Homo sapiens: one gene and its partner. The protein of the gene in region 1 interacts with the protein of each later gene in a pairwise test. Each region holds a gene or a part of one and is shown on either strand. Other genes may lie near its edges.

Region 1 (3,916 bases):
TTCTCTAGCTGTGATCTTCTGTGCCTTCTATCTCTTCCTAAGGAAAACCACATTAGATGAACCCAGGGCTCAGTCATTTTAGGGAGAGGGTTGAGACAACACTGCCAGCAACACAGCTGGAATCACCCGAGTCGGGAACATTAAAGTTCCTGAGAGAATATGAAACAACTATCAACATAATATTTCTCCCTACTTTTACAGTAAAATATTGGAAGTAAATAAATATAGGGAATGCAACAACTGGCTAGGAGTGTTTTACATTCAGTTGTTTGGAAGCATAACACATTCAGCTCCTTTGAATCTTCCCGTTAGAAAATACAGAATTACTCTATCACCTTTTAAGGTACAGTAAGACAAGAAAAAAAGTCATGTGAGGATAATACAGTCTTTGCATTAAAGGTGAATCTGCAACATGAAATCTGCTCGACTCACAGATCTGGAGATTCATAGGGAAGATAAGCTCTAAGTGACCATGTCACAGAGATATGCAGGTGCTGAATTTCTTAGTAGATGCTGCCTGAGTAAACCAGATGTGGCTACTGGGCAAAGGGAGGAAAGAAAATAAATCTTGTCCTCTACATGCATAGTTATGTTGTGAGAATGATCCCCAAACTGAAAAAATCATTTAGTTTTCACAAGGAATTAATTAGGCAGGCCAGCTCACTTTAAACAGTAGCTCATCTCCTTAAACCTAGTTTTTACCAATGACTTGAACTAAAAACAATTCAAACCACTGGGTCATGCACAGTCAATAAGTTAAAAAACTATAAGAAAAAAAGGCATAAGGGCATGAGTGGAAAATAAACCCTATTTAACTAAGGGGTAGGGAGTGGGAGCAAGAAAACCACTTAGTATTTTGTATAGAATGGGGAAGAGAGGAAGATATTTTCATTATGGCTTTAGGATGGAAGCGCTTCAGATAGTCCCCTGCCCCATTCCTCCAAATCAAAGCCCCAGTGGCAGTGACAGTACCAGGAAACAATCTAGCCTCCCCGCCCACCCCGCCCCCATAACCGTGCCCGGCGGCTGCTGTCCAGTCGCCCGTGCTTCCCAAGGCTGCCGAGGAAGCGGCTGCTGCTCATTCCAGTAGATCCAACGCCCAGGCTAGGGGGTAGAGACACAGCCCTTGTGGTAGGGTAGGGCACGTCTTCGGCCCACCGCTCCTGGGCGCCAGTGGCTTCAAGGGAAGACCTTGGGACCTGGATAGGGTTCTCCCTCGCACCAGAAGTCATCGGCCTGTGGGGTCTCCAGGAGCCACACCTCTCGAGGCAGGTCACAGGCCGAGCTGGAGGCCTCCTTGGGCCTGACCGGCTCCAGCACCCGGTAATAGTGGCAGTCCCGGCCATCGTCCGGGTCGTAGGGCGGGGCCAGGATGTCCAGGAAGGCGGCAGGCCCTTCCACGGCGTCGATCTGGTGCAGGTTGTCCCGGTGCGGTGTGAGGATGCAGGGGCCGCTGGCCTCGGTGTACTCGGCCCGCGAACGCAGCACGCCCGGCCGCACGGCTTCTCGCTCCCGGGGCTGCAGCGGCGGCTCGAACTGCTGCTCGGGCGGCAAGGCCCGCGGCCGTTGCCCGCCGCCCGCGTCTAGCTTGTCCATGCAGCTGATGCGCACGGTGCCGTACAGCACCTTGAGCATGCCGTGCATGCCCGGGTGGTCGTGCAGCGGGATGGACGTGCCGCTCTTGAGCAGGAACACGCCCAGGCTGAAGCCGTCCGTCTCGTAGATGTGCATGTAGGTGACTGGCGGCAGGTTGGGCGGCAGCGGCTGCAGTGTGGCCTTGCGCGGGGCGATGTTCAAGTCCTCGGCGCGGAGCTGGGTCAGGAGGCTCTTCAGCTTGCTCAGGTTCTCGGGGAAGCCCGGCTGCATCGGCGCCTCCGGGCCAGAAGCCGCGTCGCGATCGGAAGCGCCGCGGCCGCCCCCGCTGCCCCGGAAGGTGAGGCAAGCCTGGCGGGCGATCCGTTGGATCAAGGAGGCCATGTTGTCTCGGGGCATGGTCGGCTGCTCCTCTGCGTGCCGGGACCGGCCCCCTCCTTTCCTCCGCCCCTTGCGGTCCCCGGCGGCCGCCACGGCTGCCCCCAGCCCGGGTCGAGGCGGGAGGCCCCGCAACCACCGGCCCGTCGGGCGCGCGGCACCGCCGCCAACCTCAGCAGCCACGCGCCCGCAACTGCCCGGCGCGCTCGCCTTGAGCCCCCTCTGAGCGCGCACGCGCACGCCCCACACCCCGCACTCACGCTCCGGGAGCAGATAGCGGCCGCGCAGACGGTGCCAGGCTTTGCCTTACGCCCGGCGCTCCATTCATGCGGCCCGCACCTACGACGGTGGCCGGGCGCCCGGGGACCCTGCGGAGCATGCCGGGACTTGTAGTCCGGCCTTCCGCTTGAGCTCTGAGATAGTTCAGTTTGTTGATTGGAAAATAGAGGAACTATTACACATGTTGGGCATAAAGCGATCTTTTTCAGGATGCAGAGGTGTTTTTCTTGTTTTAGAAAAGATGAATCGGGGTGGAAGATTAGTAGCCACTTGACTACAACTCCCGGCACTCCCCGCAGGGTGGAGTGACGCACTTCCGTCAGCTGGCCCCCGGAGTAGTGGAGGCTCTTGGCCTTCATAAGGAAAGGGGCAGGGAGGGTCGTTAACCTTCTGGCGCCGCGCTGGGGCCTGGTTAGCCATGCAGGGTCGCCTTCCTTTGGCCTTGCCCCTGGGAAGGAGGCTGTTGAGTCAGCCTTAGCTCCTCGTAGCGGCCTAGGCAGCACTGTCTCCCACGGGAATTGCAGGAGGGCGCTTTTATAATTTTGTGTTTCCTAGGAGGGGAGGGGGTCCAGGCCGTCCTCTGTGATCATCAAGGTTACTCGGCCCAGCTGGGCCCAGCTGGGCCCAGCTGTTGTTTGCATCAGGACCTGATGACGCTGCTCTTCTGGTTACAGAGCAGTATAGCTTTTTGCTGGAGAGACTTGAGAGGCCATTTACAGTGGTCGTGGATTCTGAACATACTAGTGGTTATCAAATCTTGGTTTGCCTGAGAAGGGGGAGCGGGCTTTTATAAATGCAGATTCCCTGTCGTCACCCAGAGATGGAGTTACTAGATGGTTCTGAGGCATCCTAGGAGAAATAGTGGTGTGCAACAGTCAGTTCAGTCAGTAATTGTGAAATTGTTTCACTACACAGAGGCATCCTTCTCCTTGGCGTGAACTAACTTTTGGCATAAGTAAATGACTAGAAAAGCAAGACATTAGATACTATGACTTTAAACTTAACCCTGAGTTTAAAGTCTTTTTGGATTCCAAAGCTGAACATGGGTTTCTTGTACATTTTGTAATTGGAGTGGTTCAGTGAATCCTCTCCAGTTAAAATAGGCATACTTTTTAAAGTGGATTACATAACCTGGCTAATGAGTACTCACAATATGCCAGGCACTGTGTTAAGTGCATTATATAATGAATGTTATACTATTTAATCCTTGCAGCAACTCTTAAGAGGCAGGCACTATTATTATTCCCAGATTGCAGATGAGGGAATAAGTTGTAGGATAGTGAATACTAAGTACCCAGCAAAGCATGAGCAGCAGAGCAGAAATAAGTACAGTCTTACCAAAAACAGCAGCTTGAATTGGTGTAAAAGCACCAAACGAGAGTCAGGATATTGTTGTTCCAGCCTACTGTGTGTACTTACAAGCTGTGTGTCGTTAGGCAAATCCTACCCTTTTAGGGCCTCAATTTATTCATTTGTAGAATGCCGGTGTTAAGGGAACAAAAGTTCTGAACCCTACTCATCAGAACCCCCTGGAGAGCTTAAAAAATAAAGATCTTGGGGTCACACCTCAGAGATTTTGATTCAGAAGAACTGGAGTGAAGCCTATTTTTTTGTGTGTGGTTTTTTTTTGTTTGTTTGTTTGTTTGTTTTGAGGGGTAACAAGGTT
Region 2 (3,916 bases), on another chromosome or scaffold:
TCCTGGGCCAGCCATCTGAATGTATCAAAGTTCCAAAAAGTTGAATATGTGGCTTTTTAGTTTCAGTGTCCTTTAATGGCTCTTGGAGAGAGAGTCTCTGAATTCTGAGAGCTAGGGAACCATCTAAATCATTTTAAGATTTAGAAGCCAGCATCATCTTCCCTTTACACAAAATAGGACTATAAAGCTGCAGTGTTTCAGATGTTGGGGGAAGGGGCTGTCCCTTCACCGGCTGTATGAGTTATGATGTGCTTATGAGTAAAAGTAATACTTCGTGGTTCTCAGTGTCTGAGGACTAGAATACTGTTTGATGTCCAAAGCTTATATTATACTCTCTTTCTGATTCAGAGCAAATTCTCAAATTTTATCCCAGTAACATAGAAAACATTTCAAATACTGGTGAGAAAAATGGTCAGTCTCAGGAACTGTGAAATCATTTTCTACTTGACCTAAGAAACCTGATGGAATTAGGCTGCTCTTTCTTAGAAACAAAGACTATTGCAAATTAAATCTTCAGGAGATGAGCCCTCCAGCCTGCAGGGTTTCTAAAACATGCATTCTGAATAAGACAATTATATTTTATTTTCAGGGTAATTCTACACTTAATAGGAATTATATAAGTGCTTTGAAAATAGCGTGTTGTGTTGTTTTGTTTTGTTTTGCTTTGAGACAGGGTCTCACTCTCTGTTTTCCAGGCTGGGGTACAGTGGCGTGATCTCAACTCACTGCAACCTCTGCCTCCCAGGCTTAGGTGATCCTCCCACCTCAGCCTCCGCAGTAGCTGGGACTACAGGCATGCATCACCATGCTCAGCTAATTTTTTGTATTTTTTGTAGAGACAGGGTCTCACTTTGTTGCCCAGGCTGGTTTCAAACTCCTGGCTCAAGTGATCCAAGCGATCTACCCTTCTCGGCTTCCCAAAGTGCTAGGATTACAGGCATGAGCCACCATGCCCGAGCCAGCATGTTTTGTTTTGTTTTGTTTTTAACTGAAAACTACTACAGATTAAGAATCGCTGATTTTGATACTGCATAATACTAAATTGTTTATGACAATAAGGATATTCTGTTTTCATTAATATTTGGCACTTACGTAATGTTTTACCTTTCATATTTGATATTGAAAATTGATGAGTCCAAGCCACATTTCCATTACTCGCAATTTTTTAAGCTTCGTGACTATTTAATTTGTTTATAGTTCCCTATTATAGGTATACAGTTCTACTTGAGGGTTCAAAAGTAAAACAGGGCCGGGCACAGTGGCTTACACCTGTAATCCCAGCACTTTGGGAGGCTGAGGCGGGTGGATAATCTTGAGGTCAGGAGTTCGAGACCAGCCTGACCAACATGGCAAAACCCTGTGTCTACTAAAGATATAAAAATTAGCTGGGCTTGGTGGTGCATGTTTTTAATCCCAGCTACTCAACAGGCTGAGGCAGGAGAATTGCTTGAACCTGGGAGACTGATGTTGTAGGGAGCCGAGATCATGCCACTGCACTCCAGCCTGGGCAACAGAACAAGACTCCATCTCAAAATTAAATAAAAGTAAAACAGTATATAGGCCAAGTTTGTGGTATATGTGTGTTTCTATCCTACCAGTTTTAAGTTCTGTGAAAATATCACAGATATACAATATTTTGGATATTTTCCAAAATATTAAAACTGGTACTTTGGGAGGCCAGGGCAGGAGGATTACTTAAAGCCAGGAGTTCAAGACCAGCCTGGGCAACATAGTGAGACCTCATCTCTCAAAAAAAAAAAAAATTAAAAATTAGCCAGTTAGAGTGGCACATGCCTGTTGTCCCAGCTATTCAGGAGGCTAAGCCAGGAGAATCGCTTGCGCCCAGGAGTTTGGGGCTGCAGTGAGCTATGTTCACGCCACTGCACACAGCCTGGGCAGTAGAGTGAGACCCTGTCTCCTTAAAAAAAAGCAAAACTGAACTAAAGCAAGTCTCTCTCTTGTCTATCACGTCTTATTGCCATTTGAATTTGTTAGGCTTTCATACTGAAAACAAAGGTTGTGCTTTACATAGCAGTGAAAATAAGAATAACCATAGCTCTTGGATCAGGAAGAATCTAATTTTCAGTTGGTTCACTAACAGCCAACATTTGATGAAAAGTCATGTGGATCCTGGACCCTCATTACCTTCGGGTTTGACAAGCATCCCGGTCACATATGCTCCTTGTTTGGGGGTCAGTTTGCAGCAGGCATATTTGGAAAATCAGGTCCAGAGAGTTTCTGTATCTCTCTCTTTCACTGCTTAAAAAGGTTCGGAAACATCCAATCACCACTGAATATTTTTACCCTTCCCCACACCCCATTGGTGGTCACAGTTTCCAGTGTCTCAAAAGAGCTAATCGTTTTATCAATTGGATCACTTTTTTCTTGTGATTCTAAATTGGCCAAGGCCCAGTGTCATTTAGATCCTGAGCCTTGGACCTGGACTTGGGAGTATGGCTCGTTTGCCTCTGATTTGGCAGCAGGGCTCATTGCCGCACAGATCCTACTGATGGGGCCACACAGCTAAGTCATGTTCCACTTTCCCAAGCTGGAGCTGCCATGGTTCAGATCCTCCCAAACAGACCCATGATGCACAGGTGTGCCCTCTGGGAGCCTTTGCTCAGGCTTCAACCCCACTCTCTCATTGGCAGCAGGTTTCGACTCTCTCGGGCAAAATCCCAGCAAGGGCGCAGTCTCAATGCAATGCAATGCCCTGTCTTCTGTCTTCTCAGGGTCCTGTAGCATCCACAGTATCAGCGTTTTCTGTCCTCTCCTCTGGGCCTGGCCTTCCTCCACCCCCTCCTCCTCTGCCTCCTCCAGGGCCACCTCCACTTTTCGAGAATGAAGGCAAAAAAGAGGAATCTTCTCCTTCACGCTCAGCTTTATTTGCCCAACTTAACCAGGGAGAAGCAATTACAAAAGGTGAGAGAGAAAAGAAGACCTTGAAGCTGCCTCCCTTTCCCTCTGGCTCCCAGACACAAAAGAGCCGCTGGAGCCCCAGTGATGGATACATCACTCCATCCCTGCCTCCAGCATGCAGGGAGAGGGGGAACTGGTGCTGGGAAGACAGGAGCCTGCCATGTTCCTTATGTCCATGCAGACGGGCTCAGGGGGTCACTGTGTAGACCAGAAAGAAGTATTCAGAGACTCTGGGTTCTAAATGGACCACTGTGCTGCATCCTTGCTTTAGACCCCAGTACTTCCACATCATTGTCCACAACCAAGGCATCAAGATCAAGTGAAATAAAAATAAAAATGGCAGGCTGGGCATGGTGGCTCACACCTGTAATCACAGCACTTTGGGAGGCCAAGGCAGGCCTATTGCTTGAGCCCAGGAGTTCAAGACCAGCCTGGGCAACATAGTGAGACCCCATCTTTACCAAAAATAAACAGAAATTAGCTGGGCATTGTGGCACACACCTGCAGTTCTAGCTACTAAGGAATCTGAGGTGGGAGGATCGCTTGAGCCCAGGAGGTGGGGGCTGCGGTGAGCTGAGATCGCACCACTGCACTCCAGCCTGGGTGACAGAGTGAGACCTTGTCTCTAAATAAATAAAAGTGGCAAACATTAGCTCCTCTGTCCTGAAGCAGTGTACAGGCTTGTCAAAGAATTATATCCCACTATACTGGGCTTGGAGCTAAGAATCCAAAATTCTAAATTTTTCTCTGGCTCCAACTGGTTCTGCTGTGCCTTGTGAAACTCATTTGCAAAGTAAAGGAATGGATTCGTAAAGTCAATTCCATATCCTGATATATACTCACTGGAATGCCCTAACCTTTTAGGCTGTGTCTGGAGAATGATTTAGCCGTAAGAGAAGAAGTAAGACATGATCCTTTTTCGTGAGGTGGTTTGCTCTTTGCAGAATTTTTATCTATCATTTTATCTCCCAACAGAAGAGGTTCCTCAAATTAAAAA

What was found.
Region 2: the proteins of ADO (region 1) and CAP2 interact in binary tests that used the Homo sapiens proteins (3 or more experiments, as listed by UniProt).

What each region holds. Positions count from the first base shown.
Region 1 is NC_000010.11:62,803,136-62,807,051, reverse strand, and holds the start of ADO (2-aminoethanethiol dioxygenase), read right to left. Parts: upstream 2,333-3,916; 5' UTR 1,993-2,332; coding exon 1,180-1,992; 3' UTR 1-1,179. UniProt on the Homo sapiens protein: Plays a vital role in regulating thiol metabolism and preserving oxygen homeostasis by oxidizing the sulfur of cysteamine and N-terminal cysteine-containing proteins to their corresponding sulfinic acids using O2 as a cosubstrate.
Region 2 is NC_000006.12:17,536,537-17,540,452, forward strand, and holds part of CAP2 (adenylyl cyclase-associated protein 2), read left to right. Parts: intron 1-2,732; coding exon 2,733-2,922; intron 2,923-3,916. UniProt on the Homo sapiens protein: Involved in the regulation of actin polymerization.